Linked DNA regions of Homo sapiens. The protein of the gene in region 2 interacts with the protein of the main gene of each other region in a pairwise test. Each region holds a gene or a part of one and is shown on either strand. Other genes may lie near its edges.

Region 1 (7,019 bases), on a different chromosome or scaffold from region 2:
TGGTGGCGGGCACCTATAATCCCAGCTACTTGGGAGGCTGAGGCAGGACAATCACTTGAACCCAGGATGCGGAGGTTGCAGTGAGCTGAGATTGTGCCACTGCACTCCAGCCTGAGTGACAGAACTAGACTTCATCTCAAAAAAAAAAAAAGGTATCTTATTTAAAATAAAAATCTTATTTTATTATAAGATACATATTTTATTTTAAATTATATAACATAAAATGTACACATTAGATATGTAGTATACATTATATTACATACAAAATGATATGTATTCTTCTAAACAGTTTTTGCTTTATTTTACATGGCAGTAAAAAATATCAGTAGTCTTTTAAAAGGCTGTTATATATTTAATTATCCCAGTGAAGAATTATTAGGTTTTCTCCCAACTTTTCACTCTCAAAATGGGGTGAAAATTTTGTATGTGAATGTGGGAAAAAGTACAAAAGGTGAAACTGCTGACTTTGAGGGATACAAACATTTTGAAAGAAAGTGTCTTTTAAAAAGTTTATAACATTTTCTCCACTCTTTCTTAACTCTTCTCAATACTTTTGCTGATATGAGGCACCATCAATCCCACATTATCATCAATAAAAAATTGACATCCCATTGTTTTAATTTCTATCTCCTTATCCATTTGGTGATTATTATATATTTTTTATATATTTATTAGACAATTCATTTTCTTATGTAAATTTCCTTTATTTGCTCTTTGCCCATTTCCTTCCCTGCAGAATCGTTTTCCTTTCTTATTTATTTTAAGGAGCTCTTTGTGTATTAGATATATTAACAATTTTATTTGGCAAATATGTTCTCCCAAGGACCTTTAGAAGGTATTGGATGCCTGTGAAGTCCCTTCTCTTTCTTATTGTGCATGGCTCATCCCCTCTGTTGTCCTCTTGTTTTCTATTAATATTTGCCCCTTTGCCTAGTTTATTTTCTGCCCATTTGCATCACTACTAAACTAGAAGAGAGTGAGGGACATAGAATTAAATATTTGAACAGGGCTTGTGACAACTTTAATTTAGTTGAAAGGAACTGAAAACTTAATGTGTGTACAGGATTTTGTGGGAGCGTTCTGTCTTTTCAAATTTTTCATGGGGTAACATTTCCTTCTGAGCCTTGAATAATGACTGACTGTGTATTCCAGTGAAAACACAGAACTCACTGACAAACCAGCTAATGAAATGTAAAAAATGCAGTCTGTCATTTGGATGCTCCAATGATCAAATGTTTTGATAACTGACTACATATTTTATTTTTTAATGCAGATGTTCAGCATTCTATAAATATGGATTCTTAATGACTTGGGACAAAAATATTAGAATGTATGAACAACTGAAGAATGGAATGAGTGGCTGCAGAGCAAGAGTTTGAAATTAATATTAATTCACATACAAAAATAAACGATAGGTATTTTTAGCTATATATATAAAATATATACATATAGCCACATTACTAGTCAAATTTATGGTCAGTTTCCAATGTTTGAAATATTGCCGTGACATTCCAAACCATAATGTTTTCTTTAAACAGATGCTGTGCTAAATTATTTTTTTCATACCATAAAAACAAAAATCCATAAAGAGTGCTCATTAATTCACATGGAAAGGCCTGGGGCTGAAAGATAGGTCAAAGTAACACAATCTCAGGGAAAGAAAAACAGTCTGAAAATGTCATATTTTTCAGGAAGGCATTTGTATTGCTAGTTCTTGGAGCTGTGTAAAGGAAAGAGAAATAAATGCTTAATAATATTTTTAGAAACAATAAATTCCTATGTCAATCCCCCCAATTCTCACCAAATAAAAATTACTCTCATCTTTTTCCTCCTATTATGTGTCTTACATAGACTCTGTCCAGTCATTCATATCTTTCCTTAGTGTTTTTATTTTATTCAGGCTAAATCGATAGACTGTTCTTGGTACTGAACTAATTTTAATGTGAATAGATTACTGTTGGGTATAGTCATTGACAACCATTGAAAATCTTGTTTATGGTAATCACTGAGACAAGAAAATTTAAAACTCTCTTCTTTACACAATTAAATTCCTGGAAATATATGTTCTTAAACTTATTCTTAAAATTATATTATCAAGAATAAAGACATGGTACCATTGTTTAGGGAGTAGATTACCCTGCACTTTATAATATTAAAATATTTATTTCCAAAGATAATTGTTTATTTTCATTGGTAAACAGTTTTACGGAAAAACTACATACATATTGTTATCTTTCTTTGTTTTGTTTGCTCTTAAATAATATCAAAACAAATATTTCTATATTAGCTTAATGTTGAGTTATAAGGTTAGGTGTGATGGATTCCATCACATTCAAAAGTTTATATCTTTAATATAAAGTTTAAATCATATTTTAAAAGTTTTATAACTTTAATGCCTCATGCTTTTGGCAAGTTGTAATTCAGGAAGGCAGAAAAATCAATTTTAATATGAAAAACCAAAGTATTTGACAGCCAAGATAATAAGCATTTATGCAAACTGAAAATTACTTGCCCGCCAAAATAACCATTTATGAAGATTTAAGAAAATGTAGAAAATGTTATGACTGTTTATAGGTTAGAATTAGTTGCATCTACCTTGAATCCATAGTATATATTTTTAGCTTATTGTTGCTTTTTAAAAATCTATGACATAGCAACTATATTTAAAATAGTTTATACTATAATGGGCATATTTATTATGGTTATAGTTAATAACCATATATAATGAGATAGACTTAAATCATGTGTTGGAAACTTAAGTTATTCCAGTTATACTGTCATAATAAACATTTATTTTTCCTCCATGTCTTCTATATATCATTCATCTGTTTCTGTTTTCTGGGCTAGGCTTAGAATGAGAGCCAACAAAACCTGGGACTCAGTCTGTCTTCTCAATAAAATTATTGGTACCACTGGTGGTCATACGTGTCTTCATTGGTTCTTGATATACTCTTCTTTGGCAATGATTATACTTTAGTTTTGGGGCATATGTGACTAACTAGCGGCATTTAATAACAAAAAGATAACATCTCATAATGTTACATTACAATCAGTCCTTCCACTAATTTAAATTCAGATTCATTTCCCTTATTTAAGAAAAGAAAATTTGTTTGGAAGTACCAAGAGGGAACAGAAGTGGCCATTTCATAGTGCTTCATGATTTAAAAAATATCAGAAAACTTAACATACCTTGTGTACTTAGCATCTGTTTATCAGAAATACTAGTGGTTACTAATTAATTAACTGATTGAACAAGTAAAGTCTATTCATTATACACTTTTGTAAAAAGAGGATTTCATTTGGAGAAAAATTTCTACTCTGACATGGTTGAGAGAAATAGGATAATCTTGGGCGACATCAAATTAAGTGTAACTAGTTTGTAGTGGCTGATTTAACATATGACATAGACATTAACTCTGGGTATATTATGGGCTTTAGTGTAGGGTCGCTAGAAGGATGTGATAGATGCATGTGTAAAAACTGTTTTAAACGTATGCTTTACATGTTCTAATTCTATGAATATGCTGGATGTGTCTAGACAAGAAATTTTAACTATAACCATAATTGTGAGACAAAGCTAAAAGTAAGACAAAGCTAACCAGAGCCATGTGGGGAAGGCAAGAGCCTCAAGGACTTGTTTAGACAGTTGCTTCCAGGGGAAAAAAAGAAAAAAAAAAGTGCAGTCTTCAGTCCAAGACCTGTCAATCCAGTTTTTAAAGATTGATTAGGTAGTTGAGTTTTTCTTCCTTTTATCCTTGGAGAAAATGAAAAATAATACTTTCTCTTCTACTTTAGACTCACCATTCATATATTTTATGACAGTTTGGTCTCACCTGAGCCTTTCTTCTCTAGGACAAATTATGCTAACTCTTTCTGTCTGTCCTCATAGGTCCTATTTTTCAACCACTAAATCCTCTTATTGTTCTTTCTTGTATCTTTTCCAGTTTCTTCAGTCCCTTTAAAATTTTAAAGTCTTAAATTTAATATATTTGCATATATTTATTTTTGATGAGTTAGAACTTCAGGAGCGTTATTTCTTTCTGCTAAGTGAGAGAGTGGTCACTATGACAGGTAGATTGGAGAAAGGAGATAAGAAGAAAAAGAGGAGCGAGATGAGCAACTTAATATTCAAGTTAATCGATTTATATGATCAGAAATAGCAAAACGTGTATCTGGAAAATGTCACAAAGGTTTTTAATAAGTCCTTTGGAAGATACCAAAACACAAAAAAATTATTATCAGAAATAACCAGAGCTACTTAAAAAATCTTTTAAAAATATTTTTTTATCTTTTATAAAAGGTAAAAGATATCTTTATGCTTATTTTTACTAATTACCCTTCTGTAAAGGAAAAGATTAGTAGGTGAGCTCCAAATTCAGAGCAAAAAATAATAGAGAAAGATGGCCATTGCCAACTCAAGAAAAGGCATAGGAATTCAGCATAAGAGTGAGCTTATCTTAATTAGGGGCTAGAACCACTTTTTCCAGCAGATATTAATGACAGAACATTTGTGGAATGTGGCCTAGTAAAGAATTATTTTTTCCTTTTTGGTAGTACATGGTCATAAGGCAAAGTGCGCTATTGGCTTTGTTGATGCGCTATCTTGGGTTTATAGCATTGCATTGTCTTCTCTGCAGCATCATGTTGATTTTGGGTGATTAGGATATTATAGTTGGTTCAACCTCTCCATTCCATGAGGGACAAAAAGGAACCTATAATGTCGTAAATAAAACAAGTTGCTCTCTATAGCAGTTACTGTGAGAGCACAGTTCCACTGTAATAAAAACCTACAATAAAGGCCCTAAACTTTTTAATCTTTATTACTTCAATTTAAGTGCAATGCTAATTTTATTTAATATTTCTTGAATTTTATATTTAACTTTAAACCTAAGGTCTTATCTACATTCAAAACAAAATACCTGGCATTTACCCTACCCTATATCCTGGGTCATACACCACAAAATGGGGTGAACTGCTTCATTGGCTCTACAAAAGAGAGGAATGCAGTCACTACAAAAGGATGGTACTGTGTTCTTTCCAATATACTCCTTTTAAATCAACACGAAATAATAGGGATCACAACGAAGTCAGCTTACAACAGCTTTAATTCCCCAGATGGAAAGCTGCACAATAAACCCACTGCAGGTTTATTTTCACTTTAAGATGGGATAAAAATATACATCCGCCATGCCCATATTGAAAAGCCACAGGCAGATCTTAGAGGGGTCTTGCATTGAATGGTATGCAGTAGTGAAATATTTGTATTTTGTGCGAACCCCTCTTCAAAAGCTAATGCAGTGTGGTCTTACCATTTTTGCAGACAGGACAACATTGTTCTGGTTCATAGACTGGGTTGACACACTCAGGAACTGCGCAGTCTGCTACAACACAGTGAACTTCATTGCTGGGCTCACAGCGACACCATTCACATGGAGAGGGCTAGGAACAAATCTAAAATTAGCCCCTTTTCTCCTATAACTTAATGCTTGCACATTCATATGCTGTCAGAAGACAAAACATCAGTGCTTATTATATTGGCTTTACTGTATTAATTCCATTTACCATGTCTACGATCATTCTCCCTTGGTGGAAGGCAAGTTAGACACCCAAGTCACAGTGGATTACAACCTGCACTCAGGTTGCTGTGAACAAGAAAAGCACCCGTGTATGACTTTTCCTATATCTTATGTTCCTACTTTCCAGAGAAATATTTGCATAACTAATATGTCATCTCCTGGTTTGTTTTCCAGATGTACTGATTGCTCTGACCTCCTCTCGTAAACAGGCATTCTACTGGAACGTGTAAGATAATTTTTGCCATCTGTCATTTTCTTCTTCTTGAGAAAGGAGGAGAATTACTGAGAAACAAGAAAATGGTAAGTGGACATCTGTACCCTTTGTATGAACTCTTTTTCAAGCCAACTTAGACTCTAAATGGCATTTTTTTTTTCAATGTGAATATTAGAGAAGATTGCATTTGGGAACCAAACATCCAGGTACTGCCTCTTGAAAGATGTAGTGAATACCTTTCATCTTGCCTGCTTGCTTTTATGAATGAACAAATCGACTGGCCTAAAAAGCCACTATTTAAGAGTCAAAAACTCTAAAAATGGAACTAAAAATGATAATTAAGAGAAAAAAATTAAACATCAGAAAAGAACATTTGTCTTTGCAGTACTTACCGGCCGAGAGTGTTTAGAATTTTCTATTTCCTTTCTAGAAACTGCCTATGGCACAAATAATCTAAAGCAGGGGCCACCCTCTGACTTTCTCATCCTTTGTAAGTTCTAGCTCTACTTTTCTCATGGAACAGCAGTTTAAAATTCTGGAATGAAAATTTGGTGGTGTCAGAAGTCATACAATGTCCACATTTCTCAAATCAAGCCATTTGTTCTTAGAAAGCTCTGCCTCCAATCTGAAGCCACAGATTCTTACCTGCAAACTGTGCTAATTAAAGCCCTCTTCCCTTGTTTCAGTGACTACTGTCCAAAACCCTTGTCAGCTCTTATTTCTTCCCTGGATCTGACAATCTGTGTAATATCAGTGCTTCTCAACTCAGACAGTCTATAGTGGAAACCCTTCAACTAATTATTTTAAAAATTCATTTTGTCTTTGCTTTTTGCTTGGAGAATGACAGCCTAACTTTAAATTACTTTGCTTTCAAATTTAGTATGAACAAAACAATTAGCCATGGGATCTGTGGTAAAGTATGGCTATTTGTTAACATGATCAATGGCATTTTTGAAGGGTACAGTTAAACTCTTTACCATGTGGTGAGTTGTGTTTAAACATTTCAGAGAAATCTATTGCATTCTCAAGGGTTGAGATTTTTCTGATGCTTTTCTGCTAAATAATCTCAGCAAATTAAGAAAAAGATTAGAACGTACAGTACATTATTTAATGGAGAAAATTAGCAAATAAGAGATGGAAACTCTTGTTGCTCTTTTGCTCCTTATTTTGCAAACCTCATCGTGATATCTAAAATTCCCAAGCAGACTTGTCGAACTTTCCCCTTTCCT
Region 2 (7,906 bases):
CAGTTTTGGCTTTTGAAGGGAGTTCTGTTTATATATACGTCAACATCCAGTTGGAGGTGAAAAGGTTAGCACTTGACCCAGGAAGTATCCATGTTTGTTTCAAAAATAAATCTGCTTCATAAATTTCTTCATCAGTCTTTTTTTCCATTATGAGCTTTGATTATAATAAAGGAGCTGTTATTAACTTTTATTCAAGAAAAGGCCCATCTCTTTGAAAATATTTACCACCCTTCTCCCTTTCCCCTCATGAAATGTGCCAACTTCATAGGAATTAACAAATTGTAGCCCAGCCAAATACACGGATGCTTAAGCATACCTGAAACTTGAGTATATTTATTTATTACAGACATCCTAAGACCCGTAAACTCTGCTCTGGATCATATCACTCCAGGATCTCAGAGCTGTTCATGATTGTACAGGAAATGGGGAATATCATAGGCTCACAAAGGATAACTGATAGAACTCAGTGTGGTACTTTGGGGACATCAAACATTGTGCGACATGCAAAAGACTATTCACGAATAACACAAAATATACATTCATTGTGCCATCCATCACATTAACAATTGAGCTGAAAATACATTATATCCAGCTAAGATAACTGTGGAAGGAAGAAATTGGTTTGAATAATACTTTTAGGTTCTGAATAACCCAGCACAAATTTTAAACAGAGGGTGGCCCGAGAAGAAAGGGGTAGAGATTGGGAAAGACTTAGCACAGGAAGCCGGGTTTCTGAAGTTTGTGCTCTGCAGGGCTTCTTAACTGTAAGAACAAATCAAGGCTACCCTCTGAGGCATCTGATTGGGTTTAAATGAGGGAATTTTTTCTTTCACCTATAAAATTGTACCAGTTTAGAGAGTTTGCCCACCCTGTTTTAGTAACCTAAACATTTCTAGAAAATCTGTATAAAGATAAATCTCTTAGGACAAAGTATTTACAACCAGCAAACTCACACACATGAAAATGACTTAAATTAAGGGATGAATTAATTGTGTAAACATATAGTGCATCTCTTCTTCCTGAGCTCCTGGACTCGCCTTTCGCTATATCCTACTTTCAAGGACAAGGGAGGGGAGAGCTGTACATATAGTTAGATAAAAGATGAGAAGATTCCTTCTGGCATGTTTCTGTTGGCAAAGGGAACTATTTTCCAAAAGGTCATCTGAAAGGAACAGTAGGTTCTGTGAATTCTCCTAAAAGCAGGAGGGATGTTAAGGCCCACCAGAAAATGTATGCTGGCACCCAATCTGGATGAAGGTGTTAACCCCGCACCAAGTCTCTGGTCCAGAATTATCTGCAAATATATTATCCTGGCCAGGAGCTCCCCAGATAGGATTAGAAAGGAAGAAAGAGACTGTAAATGGAAAGAAAGATAAGCTAAGCATGTGCTTTGGGTAAGAAGTCCCAGCCCAAGGAGATGCCTGGGCTGTTGTCTGGGGCTGGAGCCGCCTCAGTGGGAGGTAGTCAGAGTGTCTGAGGTAGAAGACCCCGGGGAAGGAACGCAGGGCGAAGAGCTGGACTTCTCTGAGGATTCCTCGGCCTTCTCGTCGTTTCCTGGCGGGGTGGCCGGAGAGATGGGCAAGAGACCCTCCTTCTCACGTTTCTTTTGCTTCATTCGGCGGTTCTGGAACCAGATCTTCACTTGGGTCTCGTTGAGCTGCAGGGATGCAGCGATCTCCACCCTGCGGGCGCGCGTCAGGTACTTGTTGAAGTGGAACTCCTTCTCCAGTTCCGTGAGCTGCTTGGTAGTGAAGTTGGTGCGCACCGCGTTGGGTTGACCCAGGTAGCCGTACTCTCCAACTTTCCCTGGGGCAAAGTGGGAAGCCATGAGACGGAAATGTAAAAATTTTTAAATCGACTTGAGATTCCCCACACGCTTCATGGCAACACTCAGGTAAAGAAAAGATCAAGAACTCAGCACAAATCGGGCTGTGGAGGGTGAGTGATGAGGTGTAAAGTGTTAACCTGATGTAAACCATTAGCATGGTCAGACCGGTGATTAATGGAGCCTCAAGATATTAACAGAACACTACCGTCACAATAACCACCCCCACATACTTCCTATTTCCCAAATGTATAAAATCCTTGAAAACACACCAATCCCTGAGACTTCTTTGCCCCAACACCTCTGGGCACCCTCTCCATGCACTACAACACTAGTCTGATACAAAAGCCTTTTAAAAAAAAGATCATTATTAATTTCCTTGGAAATTAAGCATACCAGCTCCTTCCAGAATAATCAAGGAGCATCCACCAACCAGCAGGACTGACCTGTTTTGGGAGGGTTTCTTTTGACTTTCATCCAGTCAAAAGTCTGCGCTGGAGAAGATGTCTCCGATGCGGGGGAGCGACAGGCTTCTTGGTGGCTGGCGTGGAGAGGGGACAAGGAGTTATTATACGTAGCCAGGGCCAGGCTCTGGTGCTCCTGTCCATATGAGTGGTGAATGTATTGAGGCGAGCCCACCGCGCCCCCAGCATAACCCTGGTGGTGGTGGTGATGCTGGACCATGGGAGATGAGAGATTTCCAGAGTAAACAGCGGGAGCGCACTGGGGGTACCCACCACTTACGTCTGCTTCCTGATTTAACGCGTAGGGGCTGTAAGGCGCACTGAAGTTCTGTGAGCCATAGCTTGGACCACAACTTGAGTGGGAGTAGGACACCCCCAGGTTCCCGGAAGTCTGGTAGGTAGCCGGCTGGGGGTGGCGATGGTGGTGGTGGTGGTGGTGGTGGGGCGAACCGATCTGCACCCCCCTGCCCACTAGGAAGCGGTCGTCGCCGCCGCAACTGTTGGCGCTGACCGCGCACGACTGGAAAGTTGTAATCCTATGGTCCGAGGGGTAGGCTCGGGCTGAGCAGGTCCCCGAGTCGCCACTGCTAAGTATGGGGTATTCCAGGAAGGAGTTCATTCTTGCATTGTCCATCTGTCACTGAGTGACCTGGTCCTGCGAAGCCCGGCGTGACTGTGCCAACTTTCTCACTTCCTCCATGGGGCCGGAGAAGAAAAATGATATGAATGTACAGTGCGCAAGAGGGGGGGCGGGAGGGCGGAGGACGCTGGAGGAGGGGCACGTGACGGTGTCAGCCAATGGCTGAGCCTCCTGCAAAAGTTTGCCGGCTTCCGCAGTGATGGATCACCGTTTTAGTGGCATTTAAATCCCCGGCGCTCCGCCGTCTAGGTGACGCGCAGTCGCCCCCCCAGGCAGCCTAGGCGGCGGCAGCTGCTGCGGCGACTGCAAAGGCCGATTTGGAGTGCTGGAGCGAAGAAGAGCAAAAGCTGCGTTCTGCGCGCGCCCGACTCCGCTGCCCGCCCCGCCAGGCCTCCGGGAGGTGGGGGCTGGGAGGCGTCCCCCGCTCCCGCCCCCTCCCCACCGTTCAATGAAAGATGAACTGGCGAGAGGTGAGAAGGGAAGAGGGCTCCCGGCTCTCTCGGGGCGGGAATCAGTGGGCCAGAGCTCGCCGGGTGGCCGCAAGTACGCCGGCCCAGCCCGCAGCGCGCCCAGCCGGAAGGCGGGGAATCCGGCTGACACCGCGCCCCGGGTTCCCAGGCCACCTCCTCTGTTCTGAGGCTGGGCTGGGAGACCGTGGGGCTGTGAGGAGCGCATAGAACCGTGGTGGAGGGCGAGGCTGGGCCACCGGCTCTTCAAGCTCGGAATGGAGGGGGAAGAGCGCAGAGGGCTGGCTGGGAGGAACTCGGGTGGGCGTGAAGGAGACGAGGGCAAGAAAAGAAACTTCCCTTCTTCCAGGAGGGTCTTCGAAACCCTCTCCCCACAGCCCCTCTCGTCATTAGCATGGCAATGAGGAGTTTCTGTAATTCGACTTGGAGGGGCGGATGAGCCCTGGAAACTCAGAGCTCGCCGGAAAAGGCCGGGGGCGGCCGGGCTCTTCTTCCCCACCTTCCCTCTCTCGTCGCTCTCCGCCCCTTTCTCTTTCCCACTCAGTTTTGCACCGGGAGCCCTCCGGGATGCGGAGCTACTCGACCGCCGGATTTTTAGGGGTAGGAGGCGGGGGAGAGAGATGACGCTGGCGGACGTGGCCAGCGCGGGGGCCGGGCGGTGCGCTGCAGGCCATCTGCCGGCGCCCTGAGACCCAGGAGCCTCCGCGCTCCCGCGTGGGCCTCACAGGGCCGGTCCACAGCTCCAACATAGTAGCTGAACTCCCTTCGTTGCGTTCCTCTTTTTCTGGAGGGGAATGTTAGAAGAGAGAGAGAGCTTCCTTTTATAACCTTCCTCATTCTGCTGCACGTCTAGAGTGGGTGTGGGGGCTGGCAGGTGGGAGGGGCGGTGGACAAATGGCTGATGGTGGACGGGACACTTTACCCCAACGACACCTCCTCCCCTTTCCAACTGGCTGTGTAGTTGCTTATGAGAACCTTCAAGTCCTTCCCTAGAGAGACACATGCAAATCTGAGCCTCATCCCAGGCCAGGGGTCCTGTTCCTCATCACCCTACTTCCCTGAGGCTGCTGAGGTCGTTAAATTGTTGTTTACTATTAGGTTTCACGTCAACCCTGGGCTTGTAGAGAGAAAAAGCCAAACGGAGACCAAGAATTGATGCAGTCTTGGGTAGGAGAAATCGAGAGCTTGTCCAGGAAGCTTTGCTGTATAAATTATAAGCAATGCTGTATAAATTTTACTCCAACCATGTGTACAATGTTGGAATCAGATGAAATTTATAGTGAATGAATGTATGTGGGTTTGGGGTTTCCACTCCTCTTCAGCCTTTCCTCCCGTTAGAACAAGGAAGGTTTTTTTTTTTTCAAGGAAGGTACATTTCAAATATGTTAGTCACCCTTTCAGTCTTCTGTATTCTGTTCTCCACGTACCGAAGTTCCCCCAAACCTGTCCTCTCAAGAGAAAAAACCCATGCTGACTCTGGACTCCCTCAGTAACAATGAAACATTCTCCCCAAACATTTCCTTTCAGAATAGTATTTGTGACTTTGATCCATCCCAAGCATGGTTAAGAGGGAGCACGGGCAGGAAAGGCCCACTTTCTGGGGTTGGGCAGCCACCCCTGCCCCAGTTTCGGCTCCTGGGAATCCTCCGACTGGAGAAGGGGAAAGGCAAGGCAGTCCTCCTGGAGGCGGCTTCCTTGGGAGCACCAGCTTCCAGCGGCGGGGAGAGAAGGAGCTCCTGTGGGAGAGGGGGCAGGATGTGAGTAGGTCGGTGCTGGCTATGCGAGCAATCCTCCCTCCAAGCCTGAGCAAGTCGGTACATTTTCCCCCGCTGCCTCATTCCTGTACCTTGGTTGCCCTCCTCAGCCTGGGTTTGCAGGACCCCCTCGGCTGCAGGGCGCCTGCCACAAAGCCGACCCCGGCAGGAGCCACTCTCTCTGCTAGTTCGCTGCCTCGGCCCTGCTCTCCCTCAGCCTCTCTTCTTCTCTCCTGGCCTCTTTTCTGGGGCATCCTGGGTGGAGTGTTTTTCTTGGGATCACGAGCTTGCACTCGCACACAGGCCCGCAGACACACAGGCCCGGCGGCCGCCCTTCTCCGCTTACTGTTCCCGGCTCCCCGCAGGCCGGGTGCTCGCAGCCGGGCTGGCTATGCCTCGCCTGGCAGCCCAGAGCGCCGCTCCCCGGGAACAGCACACAAAGGCAGCCTCCCCTGGCCTCTAGCCCTTAGGCTTCTGTAGCTCAGTTCTTTCCCCACACCCCTCCCCCAAGAAATTCTGGGGGCCGTTCCACCGAGTAGGAGATCCTTGGCCCTCTAGGCAAGTAGGTCAGCGCCCCAAGACTGGAGCTGGTCTCTTTCAACGCCTTGGGAGACTGGGTGAAAGGCGAGCTTGGTTACGCTTAAAATGATCGCCTACAAGCGGTTCTCTTGGCTCAAAACGCCTCTTTCAGGGCTCTTATGCTAGAAAGGAAAGGAATAAGGAGGAGATAAAATGACGCCGAGGCCCTGAACTGTTCATGGCATCCGCGGCTCAGCCAAGCTGTTGTTTTAAAAGAGCAATAAAAATGAATTATGACTAAACGCCTTCTAACTTAATGCTTTCGGACGGGGATCCCCGGCAAATAACGTAAGAGGATTTTTATTTGTGCATGTGTTCCTGCAATTGATCTCTTTGATGACATTCTCATTCATAGAAAGCGTTTGATTTATGAGCGTAGGACGAATCGCATCCAGGAGCTGCGCAGCCCTGGCCGCTGCCGGGACGCCCTGCTCCGCGCTGAGCTTGGGGCCAGAAACCAGCCATAGTCCCCACACTCCGCCGCCGCAGCTGAGATTTAGCGGAGGAAGGGGCGAGGGAAGGTAGGGAGCAAACCTATGAAGAAACATCGCGTTGTCATTGGAACTTCCAAGCCTTTGCTGTTAAGAGCCAGGTTCTTAAATCAACCCGCCCCACACACATGTTGCTTACATGCTGCGTTTTCTCACGGTAAGTAAGTAGGCATCAGAAGAGAGCTCAGAAAGGGAAAAATAAACATGGGGAGACCTAACAAGGGAGGGGGGAAAAGCAACAACCCAGTGACACACCCTAGATCACATTTTATTGATATTTCATTTAAAGTGCTTTTCTCTCTCTCTAGAACCTGCGTTAATTTATAACCTAGGGTGTAGAAACACACCATTTTAAATCTCAACTTGCTAACCTGACTTCGAAGCATTAACGATCTATTATTAGCAATGTAAACAGGTTTAAGAATGAAATATTGATTTTTCTGACCCTGAAAAAAAAAAAAAAATCCTAGAGTGACTGAACCAGAGGATTGGAAAGAACATTTTCTAGGGTGCATTTTCCAGATAGTAATCACTGTTTTGTTTTATTTTTGTTTTTCTCTATCTTTTAGGTCTGTTTTGCCTGAACCCATCAACAGCTGGGAGATTAATCAACCACACTGAAAATGTGGAGGGATTTATGGGGGAGGGGGTTGAAATGTGGGTGTTTGAAACAAAAGTGTATAAACAAATGAATTGTTGATAACTTAGTTATTGACCTGGAGACTGGTAGCTTATTAAAGAAACTCCGTGTTACTCATTCCTGGAGTTGGGGGTTTCTGTAGGCACTTTATTTCTCCACTTTCAAGAGCTTGGGCTTGGCCCAAATCTTAGACTGTCCAATTCTGCCTCTATTACCAATTTAAATCTATGGCTTGAACCTGTGCACTGAAAATCAAATCCTTTAAAAAGAAAGAGGAGAAGAAGAAGCAAAAAAGAAAGAAAAAACACTTATTAGAAGCCCTAGTCATTTTTTGGCTTTCTGTTTTGTTGCTGTCCATTGAAGACTTTGAACATGCCGCCTTAATAAATGTATTAAAATTGAAAAAAGAGGATAAATTGTGACGAATTTTATTTACGAAGTTAGACTAAAAGAAGAAAAAGAACCCGTTATGAGCCTTGAAAAAAGAGGGGGAGAAAAATAAGCTACTTATAGCAAAGGAGAATTTATTCTACAAAAAATATGCATGACAATGCATCCCAATGTAATACAAAAATAAAAAGAAAGTGAAGATACAATTATATGATCACTTTCTTGCAGGCCTCATACTGCTCTCAGGAATCACATAAAGGGTTGTTGAGTTAGGTTTAAAACAACTAAAACTCCAAAATAATCTGTAAAAGATGGCTCTGTTTGAAACTGGGTCAGGGAATCACTAAACAGAAAATCCTCAACACTTAAAGGAGGGAAGGGGTAGGTCAAGAAGAAAATAAAAAATAAACTCCCAAATAAAAGAAGGCAAAACCACCTGGTCAAAGGAGTTTTTGTTTGGTGATGCTTTGTTTTGCTTTAATGTTTTTAGTAATTCAGATGCTGCAAGTCGATTGTGGTGAGTGTGTCTGTAAAAAAGTCTAAGCTGTCAGCTGAAATATCTACGGGACTGTCGAGGGAACCTGGCAAACTGGGTGAAACTGCATCTGAAAGCTGCAGGCAGGAATCTGTGGAGAAAACGCTAAAGTCCTGCAAAG
Region 3 (7,971 bases), on a different chromosome or scaffold from region 2:
ACTGAAAGCAATACAATTACAGGAGGCAGCTCAGATTGAAGTCCAGCATCTTATCATCCAATTACTCTCAGATGTCCATGAGGAGACTACAAACTGTCAGGTGCACTTTCTCTCAAAATATGCACCAAAGGGATACATATTTGCCCTATACAAATCAATCACACAAGACTGAAACAGACAAAGGAAAATGCAGTTAACACAACTATTTTAGAGGGGCAAAAGATAACAAATGGCACCTTTTGCCTCATAGCACTCTGAGAAGCAAGAGGGGTCACCAGCAGCTCTACTAGAGCCACTTATGAAAATTCAGCCTGGGTTCTCACTCTTGTCGCATCTGCTCAAACCAGCATAGTCTGTTCCGGAAATACTACCTCAATGTGTGCCCCCAGTGTTTCCATAAGTACTTTAAAAACATACATTTCATTAAGTTGGACTAAGAGGTCTTCTTTGAATGGATAACCAAGGCATCCACACAACGAAAGAAACCGTGTTAGCTCTTTGTACATAAATTTAAAATTCAAACAAACAAACAAACAAGTACAGAAAAGAAAATAGACCACAGTCACGGTCCATATCACTGAGGAAACCAACAAGATCTCTTTTTTCATTTTCTCTGGGAACGTTTCCCTGCAGCAATTGGCTTCATCCTCCATTCTTAGCTTCTTGGAACTCCTACCAAGATGGCAGAATGACAGTCCTTTTTCCACTACAAGAGTTTTGATTATCTACTTCATAGTGCATATAGAGAACCATTTAGGAGAAGATAAACAACATATTTCCTAAAAGTCAACGAAGGATGATTGAAGAGAGTCTCATCAAATAGCCTTTTTTCTGCTGGGCCAATCTCAGGCATCATTTTGATCATCGTCATCCTCTCTCCCCAGGTTCATTGCCACAGCTTGTTCAACTCCAACCTTACTCATGGGTATGCCTTTCTCTGTACTGCTTCTTTAACCTAACATCTGGATACCTTGAGGTATCAATGCACAGTGAATTATGCTCTTCATGCCTTTCTTCCTTGTTTCTTTCCAGTATAAAATGAAATTTCCTCCCCTCTCATTGGAAACTCTCAGGTTCTGATTAGGTACACTCTCCTCCTTACACCATCCCTGTCACAGTCCTGGTCAATTCTGTATTTTGATAGTGGATTATAGGCTCCATCACCAGCATGGAATTCATTTGTTGGGGATTTAGGCAATTCTTTCTCTGAGAGGATGAAGACTATCCTGGAATCTATGACTTCCTGAGCAGAACATGAGTTTGATTTCATATCTGCTTGCCTCTGGATGACACCCATTTTATTTGAGTGGCCTACAGAGTCCTACATGCTGGCCTTGCAACACACACAGTGACTCCCATTTCTTGGCTGACATTCACCAGCTCATTTCTGTTCACATGGGCCATTTGTTACACTCATTTTTATCTCAGGTAATACGTTTTGCTCATGGTGGCCAGGATGACATCTCAGACACAAAGAGATGACATAGAATTCAGGAGCCAATGTTTAACAAAGAATTTTTGAATTGCCTCTGGGGACCTACTCAACATCATTTTCATACTCCTCAACCAAAATTCCCTATCTTCTCCCAGCAAATACGGCATGCTCAAAACACAGAAAGTCGTACTTGGACTCTAAAGCTTTCATTCTCAAAGGTATTTAGGCTTTTTAGTTTTTGTTGAAGCCTCCCAAGGAATAAATCTATTTGGTGATAATATTGTCCTTGTCCCTCAAAGCTGTTTCACTTGTGGTGCTGTCCGTGGTGCTGAGCATTGGTGCATTAGGCCCTGTATTTGAAAGTGAGGAGCCAATACGACAGAGTAAGAGAGGAATTTTGTTTTGTTTTCTTTTGTATTTGCTAGACCATAGACAAAACCTCCATGATGACTAAAACAGAAATTCAACTTGGATTTTCAAACCACAATTTCTTCAGTGCCCTCTCTCCTCACTTCTATTTAACATAATATTGGAAGGCCTGACCAGAGCAATCACGCAAGAGAAAAGAAGAAAGGGTATCTAAATACAAAGAGAGGTCAAACCATCCCTGTTTGCAGATGTCATGATTCTATATCTAGAAAACTCCATAGTCTTCACCCGAAAGATCCTTAAGCTGGTAAACCACTTTAGCAAAGTTTCAGGATACAAAATCAATATGCAAAAATCACTAGAACTCCTATATGCCAACAACAGCGACAGGGACAAATCAAGAATGCAATTCCATTCAAATTTGCCATAAAAAGAATAAAACACCTAAAAATACAGCTAATCAGGGAGGTAAAAGATCGTTACAATGAGAATTACAAAACACTACTCAAGGAAACCAGAGATGACACAAAGAAATAGAAAAACATTCCATGCTCATAGATAAGAAAAACCAATTATCATTAAGACAGCCATACTGCCCAAAGAAATTTAGATGCAAGGCTATTTGTCTCAAACTATGAATGACATTCTTCACAGAATTAGAAGAAATATTATTTTAAAATTTAAATGGAACCAAAAAAATGCCAAATAACCGGGGCAATTCTAAGTGAAAAGAACAAAACTGGAGGCATCAAATTACCCAACTTCAAAATATACTACAAGGCTACAGTAACCAAAACAGCATGGTATCGGTATGAAAAGAGACACACAGACCAATGGAACAGAATGGAAAGCCCTAAATAAGGCCACAAACCTACAACCATCTGGTCTTCAACAAAGCTGACCAAACAAGCAATGGAAAAAGGACTCCCTATTCAAGAAATGGTGCTGGGAGAACTGGCTAGCCATATGCAGAAGATTGAAACTGGACCCCTTCTTTACACCATATACAAAAGATAGATTAAAGACTTAAAAGATTAAACCCAAAACTATAAACATCCTGGAAGACAACCTAGACAATACCATGTGGGACATAGGCATGAGAAAAATTTCATGATGAAGATGTCAAAGGCAATTAGGAGAAAAGCAAAAATTGACAAACAGAATCTAATTAAACTAAAGAGCTTCTGTACAGTGAAGGAAACTATCAAGAGAGTAAACAGACAGCCTAAGGAATGGGAGAAAATGTTCTCAAACTATGTATCTGAAGAAGGTCTAATATCCGAGCATTTATAAGAAATTTCAACAACTTCACGAGAAAGAAACAAACAAACCCATAAAAAAGTGGGTAAAGAGCTTGACACAGTGGCTCATGCCTGTAATCCCAGCGCTTTGGGCAACCAAGGCTGGTGGATCACTTGAGCCCAGGAATTTGAGAACAGGCTGGGTAACATGGCAAAAACCCATCTCTACTAAAAATAGAAAAAAAAAATAGCCTAGCATGGAGACATGCACCTGTAGTCCCAGCTACTCAGGAGACTGAGCTTAGAAAAATCACCTGAGCCCCGGAGCCAGAGGTTACAGTGAGCCAAGATGGTGCCACATCACTCCAGCCTGAATGTCAGAGTGAGACCTGTTTTAAAACAACAACAAAAAAGTTGAGCAAAGGACACGAACAGACACTTTTCAAAAGTAAGGATACAGGTGGCCAAAAAACATATAAAAAAGCTCAATATCACTGAACATTAGAGAAATGCAAATCAAAACCACAGTGAGATACCATCTCACACCAGTCAGAATGGCTGTTATTAAAAAGTCAAAAAAGGACAGATGCTTCAAGGTTGTGGAGAAAAGGGAGAACTCACACATTGTTGGTGACAGTGTAAATTAGTTCACCCATTGTGGAAAGCAGTGTGGTGATTCCTCAAAGAGCTAACAATAGATCTACCATTCAACCCAGCAATCCCATCACTGGGTGTATACCCAGAAGAAAAGAAATCATTCTGCCATAAAGACATATGCACATGAATGTTCATTGCAACACTATGCACAATAGCGAAGACACAGAATGAACCCAAATGCCAATCAATGACAGATCGGTTACAGAAAATGTGGTACATGTACACAATGAAATACTATGCAGTCCTAAAAAAGAATGATATTATGTCTTTTGCAGGAACATGGATGGAACTGGAGGCCATTATTCTTAGCAAACTAATGCAGGAACAGAAAACCAAATACTGCATGTTCTCACTTATCAGCGTGAACTAAATGAGGAGGCTCATGGACATCAAGAGGGAAACAACACACACTGGGGCCTCCTTGAGGGTGGAGGATGAAAGGTGGAAGAGGAGAAAAAAAATAACTTTTGAGTACTACACTTAGTAACCAGGTGAAGAAATCATATACACCACAAATCCCATGACACGACTTTATCTGCATATGTACCCCGAACCTAAAATAAAATGAAAGAAAAATCAAATAAAAACAACAATCTCACCTTCCTCCCAGAATCTGCAGGAGAAACAGTGTCTCTGAAACTTTTATTTACATGGACACCAAGAGAAAGGAGAGGGTGTAGCTAGAGCCCAGGTGTGTGACAGTCAGGTGAGAGTGGCCCTTACCTGGCAGAGCCAAGCAGCCTAGTGTGGAATAGGTTCATGCAAGAAATTTCTCTGCTTCTCTCCACAGATCCTCCTGAGGATCAAGGTCAGTGCTCTCCCAGAACGTTCAAAAGCAGAGAGAATCATTACCTTCTAGGGCTAATGTATTTCCCCAAAATCTCCAACTTTTTTCTTTTCAGCCGTTGTACAAATTGGGAAAATGTACACTTTCTGGGTATATTCTGCATAGATGAGAAAAGGCTTGAGAGGCATAAAGGCTGGGCTTTACAACCACTACCGCTCACTCCATCATCTTTATCTATGCATTTCCCTGGTAACCCAATCCACAGCCTGGTAACTCCCCCACTGTCACTTCTGCTGCATTACAGATACAGACCTGCAAATAGCTATGGTTGTGACTGAGTTTCTTCCTAACAACTAAACCTGTCTAAAGCTGCAAGGAAATCTTGCTGGGAGGAGCTTGGAATCTGGAATGAAGCCCGAGGGCAAGGCTGAAGTGGGTCATTTAAATGCTGCAACTCAGAGATTCACTCAGAAGACTGGACTCAATTCTGAAGGTCGCCAAGAAGGAGAGAACAATGTCTTCTTTACCCGTGAGTTGAAAAGGCACAGCCTTCAAAAATTTCGTGTCACACAAACCAAGAAAGAAATGGGAGATTTTATGAGATGAAAATATGAGCATTTTTGCTGTGAATGCTTTACTTAGAGCTATTGAGGTGTGGAATAGAAACCCTGAGGCTATGGTATCTGAGATGCTTGTGGGGATTGCGGTGTGGACCCTGGACCAGTGTAACCTTCGGTGAGTGTGAGGTGGTGTCTGATGAGCATAAACTCTGCGGAGATAATGTGACTTTAAGTGGGAGGTGGATTACCCACCAGGACGAGCAGGTGTGTGAATGGAGAGTAAAGGGGTGAGTCGGCTTTGTTTCCTGTCTATGATGTGAGTATGTGTGTGAGCACAGCCAGACCAGTGCATGAGCATCGTTATGTGCACAGTGAGCAGGTGTGTGTGACGCAGTGAGTGGTGTGGCTCTGTGTGACTGTGAGTGTGTGTGCTGGGATGTGACTGTATGTTGAAGTGGGATCATGCATGTGGCTTTCTTCACATGTGAATGTTTCTCCCCACACAGCAGCACCTCTGATGTGAATCCCATGTGGCTTAACTGGTGGGGATCTTGGGGATTGTGAGTTACCAAGGACTTATTTCAGATCACTTGTGAGAGCAGAATGTATGATCAGTAGATGTCTCTTCCCAGTAAGAGTGGGGAAGAGGAATGCAGACTATGGGGGTGATGGTTCCTCAGGTGGGGTCTGCACAGAGTGACCACTGTCTCTTGCCTCCCAGGCTCAGCTTGCCTGTCCCTAGCCCATCCAGTTCTTCCCACTGTGTGACAGGAGGGTGTGCAGATACTGGTTTGTTAGGGAAGGACATTAGAGGCCGTGATTTCAGAGACTGAATCACACAAAATATCCACTGTAAGCTCTGTCTGAACTGAGACTAAACTTGTTCTACACCCATGAAAGAACAAGTTAAGTCTCAGTTCAGAAGGAGCTTACAGTGGATATTAATCAACCAAGCAGCTGGGTTCACTGGCTTATGGCTATAATCCCACCAATTTTGGAGGCAAAGATGAGAGGATAACGAGGCCAGAAGTTTGAGACCAGTCTGGGTATCAGAGTGAGACCCTTTCTTTAAAAAACTTTAAATATTTGACTGGCAGAGAGGCAGGTACCTTTCTTCCCAGCTATTCAAGAGGGAGCAGATGTGTGAGATTCACTGCAGCCCAGGAGTCTGAGGTTTCAGTGAACCATGATTGCATCCCTGCATGTCAGCCTGGGTGACAGAGCAAGAACCTATCTCAAAAGTACAGAAAAATCATCTCATCTACTTGTAGTCATCATAGAAATCAATCATTCCCTCCAGTTATGTCCCTGACCCACAAGCTTCATTTGTGCAAGTACTGGGGCTGTGCTCTCAGTAGTGTGTGCCCCTTCTTGGAAGGATGTCCATGGCCCTTGATGATAGTGATGCATGTGCATCCCACACACAGGGGTTTCCTGTTCTTTCATCATTTCCCTCTCCCTTTCAACAAGTGTTGTTTCTCACTGGAGTGAATGTTTAAATTCTTACATTTACAAGTCTTGTTTTAATTTTCAGAGTTGAAAATGAAGGCAGGTCAGTCTTTCAAGAGGACTCTCCTGTCCTGTTAGGTCACCCTAAGAGGCCCTACGCATGACAGGGATTAGGGTAACACTTTTACATGTATTAACTCCCTATTACGGAGAACATCCTACAAAGTAGAAATTCCTGATAATCCTCGTTGTCCTAGGGAAAATGAGGGAGAGTTCAAGTAGCAAATCTAAGACTGCACTGCTAGTAAAAGGCAGAATGAGGACTGGAATCCAGGCATCCTGGCTCCTGAACCCTTGCTCTAACTTATGGGTCCGCCATATCTTCAGGAATATGGGGCCCTGAATGCGGTAGGGTTAAAGAGGAGAGTCCACAGAGTCTGCCCTTTCATCTCCAACCTCCTGCACCATGAGAATATGTTACAGGAGGGGAGACTGCACCTGACCCTGCACCTCTCACTTACTCTCAATACTCTGGCAGGTGCCATACAAACTGCCTGTGTCTTTGTCTGTTGGTTCCTGCGTGATAATCAAAGGGACACCAATCCACTCTTTTATGTGAGTACTCCATGGTCCAATGGAGGGGTTGGAGAAGAAGGGAGAATATTTGCGAAGATTTGACCTTACATGTGGGTGATGTGGAAATGTCTAGTTGGCAGAATGGAGGCCCCATGCAGGTGCAGGTCTTGGAGACCCTCCAGCACCAGGCATGAGACCCACAGCAACTGCATGTGGGCCAGCCATGGGGCCTACAGGAGGAGAACACTCAGTGGGTTGGGGCTGTGGCTCTTTATCAGGGGGCATAGAATTTTCGGGAATGAACAAGTCATAGGCCCAGGTCAGTGACTGTGGCTCAGTTTTCATCTGGGGATGAGGAGCACAGAATCTCCCTGCCTGGGGGCATGAGGAGCTGAAGCATCCCCACAGGGACCTGGCCATCAGTATTATCTGGGAGACTTTTTCCCTAGGTAAATGGGGGAAGGGATTTGTGTGTGTGTCGAGTGTGTGTCTGCGCAAGGGAGGGACCTGCCCAACATTCTGCGTGCTTCACCCTCAGCAATGACCCACAGCTGCAGGTGGATTTCTACACTGACATGGATGAGGATTCAGATATTGCCTTCCGTTTCCGAGTGCACTTTGGCAATCATGTGGTCATGAACAGGCGTGAGTTTGGGATATGGATGTTGGAGGAGACAACAGACTACGTGCCCTTTGAGGATGGCAAACAATTTGAGCTGTGCATCTACGTACATTACAATGAGTATGAGGTGAGCATCCCAGGAGCTCCCAGCACCCAGGCTCTGTGGGCTCCCAAAACAGGAGGCAGCTCTCATTGATCTGGCCTCAGTAGTCCGTCAGGGTCCATCTCCCATAACTACTCCTGCCCCTGGTTTTCATCACAGAGCACCCCCTGCT
Region 4 (7,415 bases), on a different chromosome or scaffold from region 2:
TGGGCCTCCAGGCCCCAGCCCCACCGTCACTGGGCTGAACCCGTAGCGGCCTGTACCCAGAGAATGGTACGGGTCCGGCTATCCTCCCACGAGAACAGGGGCTCATAGCCGAAATGGCGCTGAGCCTTGTCGGTGCTGACGGTGAAGGTGGTGTTGGCCACGGCCAGCGTGTAGGGGTTCAGCAGGGGTGCGTAGAGCACCAGTGGCCGCAGCAGCCACTGCAGCAGGGCATTGAGGGCAGCCAGGAACACCAGCAGCCAGTAGGGCAGCAATGGGCGGGCGCCCACCAGCCGCAGTCCGCAGGGGCCCAGGAACTCCATGTTGAAATCCTCGTAGCTCCTGTAGGGTGATCCATCGTAGCAGAAGTATACCTGGCCGCCCATCAGGGTTGCCCGCTGCTCCAGCTCCCGGGCTGCCAGCACGTGCATCCAGGCAACATTGCCTGCCGGTGGCGGAAGAGAGGCGGACACACCCCTGAGTGCCCTTGCAACACCACATCGAGGCTGCTCTCCTGGGCCACCCCCTCTTTGGGCCCAGGTAGTTGCCGCCCACATCCCCACAGCAGCCTGGGAAAGGCTGCCTTCTCCCTCGCCCTGGTAGTCACTTGCTCTCCTGGGCCAGCCTGCATCTGCAAAGAACCTGGGGAGAGGATAGAGAAACCAGGACCTGCGTGGTGGGCCCTGAGAGGCTTGGGGACTGCAGGATGGAGTGGCAGGTGACCTTATTCCCTGTGTAGATGCTACTTCCTTTAAAAAAAGTTTTAGAGACAGGGTCTGTCTCTGTCATCCAGGCTGGAGTGCAGTGGTGCGGTCATAGCTCACTGCAGCCTCCAACTCCTGGGCTCAGGCCATCCTCCCGCCTCAGCCTCCTAAAGTGCTGGGATTATAGATGCGAGCCACTGAACCCAGCCCTTTTAGTGCTGTGTACACACTGTCCCTCTCCTCTCCTCTCCTGGGGAATGGCTGCTCCCATAGCTGCAATCTTCTCTGTAGCCTATGATACACTTTTTAATGTCCCAACTTGCATGGATCCTGTATTCTCTGCAGGCTGTGGAGACATAATCACAGTCTACCTTGGCCCATGTATAGACCATATTTTTCTAGCCAGAGTCCACACTTCTCTCCCAGGGCCATGTGGGTCCTGCCCCCTTCTAGAGCAAGTCCTCCTGCCATATTCTCAGCCTCCCCCTGCCTAGCCCAGTCCTCACCCACATAGACCCGGCCATGCTCCACAGAGGCCGGGATGGCCCGGAAGAGCCAACCTCCCAGGCGCAGGCCCTGGCGGTAGAAGTCCCTCATGATCTGGTGGCCTTCACCGTAGATGCCCGTGGGACGAAGGGCACACGTCACCAGGGGCAGCCCCCCACGGACCTGGTGGCAAAGGCAGGTACTGCTGAGACCTGGGACCCGACAGCTTGCTCTCGGCCCCGGCCTCCTTGGGCTGGCAGGGTAAGGGGGTGTGCAGGGCAGGAGCCCCATCTCTGCGCCTCCTTTTTCTGGGCTCACCTTCCTCCCGTTGGCCTCCAGGACCAGCCACTCGGCCAGGGCCTTGCTGCAAGGATAGGGGTGCCTGTGCACTGCTTCGTATGGGGTGTCTTCGTTGCCCCTGGTGGGAGGAGAAGGAAGACTCAATGCTGAGGGAAATGGGCTCTTAGAGGACAAGAGGGCCTGCCACTCACCTGTAGAAGGGGTGACCTTTGGTGTTAGGCCCCACAACTTCCATGCTGCTGGTGTAGACCAGGAACCGTGTTCCGGTCTGCACACAAGCCTCGATCACGTTCCGGGTACCTGGCAGAGGAGGAGGCGTATCCAAGCTGCAGCTTCTTCCCTCTCTGCATCTTCCTCCTCCCCATCCCAGGTCCAGGGAAAACCATGACAGGTCAGGGGAGGCGGGGGCAGGGCTGTCAATAGGACAACTTGTCCCAGGGGAGTCACCGGAGGTCAAGGCCAAAGACAGAGTGGGGAACAAACAGGCAAGATGGCCAGGAGTGTCCAGAGCTCCTCACCCTGCACGTTGACCTCATGGATGGTCTTGGGACTGGCCCTGCCAAACACGTCTACCAGCCCAGCCGTGTGGATGACCACATGGGCTCCGGCCACAGCTGCTGCCACCTCATGGGCCTGGGTCACGTCCCCCTGGATGGCAGTCACCCTCACAGGCCCTGGCCGGGGTTGGAGGACACAGGCCATGTCAGAGCTGGGGCCAGAGGCCAGAGGCTGGGTTCATCTTCCACCCTGGAGTCACGTTCCCAATGTGACTCACTCGACCCATCCATGTGGACAGAAACCAGCATCATCTGTTCCACTGCAGGGGTGGGGATCCCAGCTTGGGAAGGGTTGGGGAAGCGTCCACACCCTCTCCACCACAAGCTCCCCCAACAAGAACCTGTCTTCAGCTCCTCCAGCCAGGGACCCAGGTGTTGGTCAAAGACCCGCAGCTCCCCGAGCCGGGGCTCCCGCTGCAGCAGCATTCGCACCACGTGCTCTCCCAGGAAGCCACAGCCCCCTGTGACCAGGTACACCAGCTTCTGGGCCTGTGCAGAGTCGGCCATGCCTGGCTGGGGAAGAGACCTTGGCTCATCCAGGGGCTGGCTGCCACCTGCTGCAACCACCTGTTACTGCTGGAGGTGCCCTGGAGCGGTGACGAGGCTGGCGTTTGCGGGGAGGGCAGAGCTGATCCTGGGAGCTGCAGCAACCAGGCCACCTGCCGTCTGCCCCTGCTGATGGCTGAGTTACGGAGAGAGGGGCGGGCTTGGGGTGCAGGAAGGGGTCAGGGTTTAGGGAGAGAGATTTGAAGGCAGTAAAAGGGTGGGGAGGCCAGGAGTTGAGGGAGGTGGAGGGAAGGTTATAGGAAGGTGGGAAGGGCCGGATGGAGGGAAAGGCCACCTGGGCACTGGCAGCGCCTCTGCCTACCTGCAGCCGCTATCCCAGGGTGCCCAGACTGGCCTGGAGGGGCCCTCTTCTTTCGTCCAGGGCTGGCCGGCCCGCACACCGTCCTTCCGCTGGCTCCTCCTTCTCCCTCCTGCCCCATTCCAGGAACAGAGACCCGCCCAGCCACAACCCCCACCACTCTTGCCCCAAGGCGCCCCCTGGCGGCCGCTCTGTGCTCCACTGGCATCTGGGTCCAGCGGAGAACTTGGTGGGGATGAAGCTCGAACTTGCAGAGTGGGCTGAAGGGGTCTGGGGCTGTGGGTGGAGCCAGCGGTGACCTCATCCCACAGTGTGACCTCAGGCCTTCCCTCCTGCTGGGCTTCCCAGGAGGCCGGAGGTCCAGCTGCAGCTGTGATTGTAGGAAGGGGAGGCCTGACCTTGGCACCACCCTGGCGGGCACTGGTGGGGTATTCCTGGTGCGGGTGCGGCTGCTGCAGCCTGTCAGGGGGTCCGAGACAGTCTCGGACTGTCTCTGCAGGTCTGGGCTCTTGCCTGAAGGCCCCTTTACCTGCCCCACACTTCAGGTACCCACTTTTCCCTCTCTTCAACTTGCACAACCCTCCGTGCCCTCTACCCCCAACCCCTCGCTCCTGCCCAAATACACCGACCAAACACTTTTGTACAATAAAGTTTAATCACAATTATAAAAATGTGGCGTCGGGTTTGCGCTATTAACATATGTACAGTCCAGCCCAGCAAAAGGGACCCACCCCGCCATCCTGGCCTGGCTGAGCCGGGGAGTGACACCAGGGTGGAAGGGTGACCCTCAGGGTCTGGCAGGAACAGATGAGGCAGGGTTCCAGGCACGGAGTCCCCAGGACTGGGGGTGCAGAGCCCCCCCAGGGGGAGAACATGGCCACTGCCCCAGAGACCCCTAAACTGGGGAGGGGTACACGCAGGGCGTAAGGGGAAGTCCCCATTAACACAAAGCAAGAGGACTGTGTAGCCCCCCAGGACAGAATCTGTACAGGCCGGCACCCCAGGTTTCCACAGGAAACAGCTGCTGGCTGCTACAAAACATTTACAGCTTCTTCTCCGCAAAGAAAAACAATCAGGGGGTGGTGGGCAGGGGTGACAGGAGAGGCAGAAGCTGCCTCCAGGGACTGAGGCTCCCTCGCTGGGCTTGGGGCCCCCAACCCCACGCTTGGAGATGGGGGCATGTGGGCCCTGCTGAGCCCACTAAGGCTGGGGGGGTGCTGGGAGCTCAGGGCACCAGGGGGAATAAATAGGGGTGTGGGCACCCATCCTGCCCCACCTCAGTTTAGGGAGCCCCGGCAGCTCTCTGTGCCACACAGACACGGGATCTTGTTGTCTTCCAGTGGGAACTTGTAGTCGTAGGTGATCTCCTCGTCCACGCCAATGGGCTGCTTGGAGTAGATCACGATCTTCTTCTGGGACTCGATGGTGATGACCTTGGCGTAGCAGTTAGGCTGCGGATGGAAGGGCGTGTGAGCCGTGGCCACCCCCACCGACCCCCAACTCCTGCCCCGGCTGGCCCCTGGCGCACCGTGCAGCAGTGGTTGATGAATCTGGCCAGGTTGCCACACTTGGTGGCATCGATGATGGTGTCGTGGTCCACCCGGAACAGGTAGCTGCTGCCAATGCCCTCCTGCACGTAGCGCTTCTCCCGCATGTCGGCCACCATCTGCCAGGGTGAGATGCGATGGTCAGGGAAGAGTCCCCCACTTCCTGCCCCTGAGCACGCCTGCCAGCCAGCACCCCAGGTCCACGCCCACCAGGCCTGGAGCTGCAGCTCTGCCTCCAGCTCCCGCTAACCCGGCACTGACTCTCTCGACTCTGCTTCCAGGAGCCCTCCCTCTTTGGGGCAGCATCCTAAGCCTCTGGTGGCCATTCTAAGTCACCCGCAGGGAACTCCAGGGAAATCTGCACTGGGTAAGAGAGCCACTGACTCCTTCGAGCATCTGCCTGGTCACAGTGGGGTCCCGGACTGCTGGGGCAAGTCTGGGGTTGGGGCAGCTCCTGAAATGACTGGCCATGTCACCAACGGCACCCTGCTCATCTCTCCTCCCTGGACCTCTCTCCAAAACAGGCACCTGTTGGCTGCCACCGGCTAATGCAAATGGCAGGCCGCCCATGTCAGGCCCCGCACCTCCGTGTGAGGAGCAACCCTTACTTCCCAGAAGACAGTGAGGAGCCTCTGCACGCCCTCCTCGGGTGACCTCACTCCCTTCCAGAGCCTCAGCCGCCAGCTATGTGGTGGGGACTCCTCCCAAACTTCCATTTCCAGCCAAAAGCCACCTCAGTGGAGCTGCTGGGCGTCATCCCCTAGATGTCCCTGGGGCATTGCAACCCCACATGTCCAGACTGGAGCTCATCTTGACCATATATTTGTTCTTCCTCCTCACACCCATCTCACTGGCCCTCCCATCATACTCCCAGCAGCTAAGAGCAGCACCGAGAGAGGGCCTCCCGTCCCCCTCACCCTCTCACTGCTGAGCCCAGCCAACCACCTTGCACCCAAAGCCTCCTCTCTGTCACCTCTGCTGCCACTGCTTGGGTCGGGCCACCCTTGCCTTTGCCTGGATACTGGTGTCAGCCTAGACATGGAGCTCACTAGCCATGGGGCCCTCTCCTGCGGAAGGACCCTCTCCTGCGGAAGGACCCTCTCCTGAAGAAAGCTCCGGGACTTTCCTCCTCTCTCACCACAGGCCCAAGTGGATTCACAGGCTCCCAAGCCCGTGCGGTCTGGGCTCTCTGTTCCCTCCAGCCACACGTCGCTGCCACTGACCCTGTTTTTTCTTTTCTTTTTTTTTTTTTTGAGACGGAGTCTTGCTCTGTCGCCCAGGCTGGAGTGCAATGGCGCGATCTTGGCTCACTGCAACCTCTGCCTCCCAGGTCCAAGCGATTCTCCTGCCTCAGCCTCCCTAGTAGCTGGGATTACAGGCGCCTGCCACCACGCCTGGCTAATTTTTGTATTTTTAGTAGAGACGGGGTTTTAGCATGCTGGCCAGGCTGGTCTCGAACTCCTGACCTCAGGTGATCTGCCTGCCTCAGCCTCCCAAAGTGCTCGGATTACAGGCATGAGCCACCGCGCCTGGCCATGGCCCTGGTTTCTAATGAGCCAAGCTGACCTCCACACTCTCACAAGACGACCGTGCCTCCAGGTTTGTGCACATGGTGTCTCGCAACCAAGCGCACACACACTACCACTTGTCTGGGCCTGCGAGCTCCTTTCAGCTTTACTCAAGCACCATGGTCTCTGGAAGGTCTTAGGCCCCCCAGGTGTGTGTTCCCATAGCCCAACTCCCCAGATCTTGTTAAGATCTTGTTAATACCAAATGCCATCCTTTTGGCTTTTGTTTTTTCTAGAGACACGGTCTCACCCTGTTGCCCAGGCTGGAGTGCAGTGGTGCAATCTTGGCTCACAGCAGCCTCCACCTCGTGGTCTCGAGTGATCCTCCCACCTCAGCCTCCTGGGTAGCTGGGACCACAGCCATGTACCCCCACGCCCGGCTAGCTTTTGTATTTTTTGCAGAAACGGGGTCTGGCAATATTGCTCAGGCTGGAACACCATCCTTCTGTGTGGATACTTGTTCAGTGCCTGTCCTCCCGCTTCCCAGGCCCTTTGAAAGGGAGCAGCGCTTGGCTGGATGCGATGGCTCACGCCTGTTAATCCCAGCACTTGTGAGTGGCCAAGGCAGGCAGAACACAAGATCAGGAGATCAAGACCATCCTGGCCAACATGGTGAAACCCCATTTCTACTAAAAATACAAAAATTAGCTGGGCATGGTGGCACACGCCTGTAGTCCCAGCTACTCGGGAGGCTGAGGCAGGAGAATCGCTTGAACCCAGGAGGCAGAGGTTGCAGTGTGCCAAGATCGCACCACTGCACTACAGCCTGGCAACAGAGAGAGACTATGTCTCAAAACAAAAAAAGAAAGGGAGCAGTGCCATCAGCCATGCCTCCTGCTGGACCACTGACACCTGCTGACCACACCGGAGGGAGGCTGGTCTCACTGGCTAGGTACCGGGGTTAGGGAGTGTGCAAGGCTTTAACCGGACAAACAGCATGTGTGTGAGCCCCCATGCTGTCTTGTTGCATCAGAAGCCGGGGCGGGGCTGGGAGTGCAGCCTCACCTGACGGATGTTCTGACCCACGTATTCGATGACCATCTCGTCAGCAGCAATGGGTTCCATGGCAAACAGACCCCACTCGTGGATCCGGCTCCGGCCAAATCGGAGCTTCTTCTTCCGGAACTGGGGGGCAGAAGGGAGACTCAACTGCCAGACACCTCCCACACCCCAGACCCTCACTCTTCCCACAGACTTCCTGGGCAGAGGGTGTTCTGGCTGCTTACCCCCCAACTCCACCCGAGGGAACCACAGGAGCCTGCTGGGTGGTCCCCTGGCCTCTGCCCCTTCCTGCCCCACCCCACCCCACCCAGCCCCTCCTGCAGCCCAGCCTCACCTTGAGCTGGTTGAGTTTCAGCAGGTCACTGTCCATGATGGCGGAGGTACCGATG

The links.
Region 1: the proteins of HOXA1 (region 2) and VWC2L interact in binary tests that used the Homo sapiens proteins (3 or more experiments, as listed by UniProt).
Region 3: the proteins of HOXA1 (region 2) and LGALS13 interact in binary tests that used the Homo sapiens proteins (3 or more experiments, as listed by UniProt).
Region 4: the proteins of HOXA1 (region 2) and HSD3B7 interact in binary tests that used the Homo sapiens proteins (3 or more experiments, as listed by UniProt).

What each region holds. Positions count from the first base shown.
Region 1 is NC_000002.12:214,435,049-214,442,067, reverse strand, and holds part of VWC2L (von Willebrand factor C domain-containing protein 2-like isoform 1 precursor), read right to left. Parts: intron 5,440-7,019; coding exon 5,310-5,439; intron 1-5,309.
Region 2 is NC_000007.14:27,092,990-27,100,895, forward strand, and holds HOXA1 (homeobox protein Hox-A1), read right to left. Parts: upstream 3,012-7,906; 5' UTR 2,924-3,011; coding exon 2,272-2,923; intron 1,807-2,271; coding exon 1,451-1,806; 3' UTR 4-1,450; downstream 1-3. Other genes in the region: HOXA2 (homeobox protein Hox-A2), read right to left, coding at 7,737-7,906. UniProt on the Homo sapiens protein: Sequence-specific transcription factor. Regulates multiple developmental processes including brainstem, inner and outer ear, abducens nerve and cardiovascular development and morphogenesis as well as cognition and behavior.
Region 3 is NC_000019.10:39,597,566-39,605,536, forward strand, and holds the start of LGALS13 (galactoside-binding soluble lectin 13), read left to right. Parts: upstream 1-4,958; 5' UTR 4,959-5,003; coding exon 5,004-5,018; exon of another isoform or gene 5,019-6,351; coding exon of another isoform or gene 6,352-6,459; intron 6,460-7,036; coding exon 7,037-7,113; intron 7,114-7,612; coding exon 7,613-7,823; intron 7,824-7,971. UniProt on the Homo sapiens protein: Binds beta-galactoside and lactose. Strong inducer of T-cell apoptosis. Has hemagglutinating activity towards chicken erythrocytes.
Region 4 is NC_000016.10:30,980,795-30,988,209, reverse strand, and holds the start of HSD3B7 (3 beta-hydroxysteroid dehydrogenase type 7), read right to left. Parts: upstream 3,004-7,415; 5' UTR 2,913-3,003; intron 2,751-2,912; exon of another isoform or gene 2,558-2,750; 5' UTR 2,552-2,557; coding exon 2,386-2,551; intron 2,162-2,385; coding exon 2,006-2,161; intron 1,788-2,005; coding exon 1,679-1,787; intron 1,606-1,678; coding exon 1,506-1,605; intron 1,371-1,505; coding exon 1,208-1,370; intron 443-1,207; coding exon 27-442; 3' UTR 1-26. Other genes in the region: histone-lysine N-methyltransferase SETD1A, read right to left, coding at 4,187-4,360, 4,438-4,575, 7,030-7,149, 7,361-7,415. UniProt on the Homo sapiens protein: The 3-beta-HSD enzymatic system plays a crucial role in the biosynthesis of all classes of hormonal steroids. HSD VII is active against four 7-alpha-hydroxylated sterols. Does not metabolize several different C(19/21) steroids as substrates.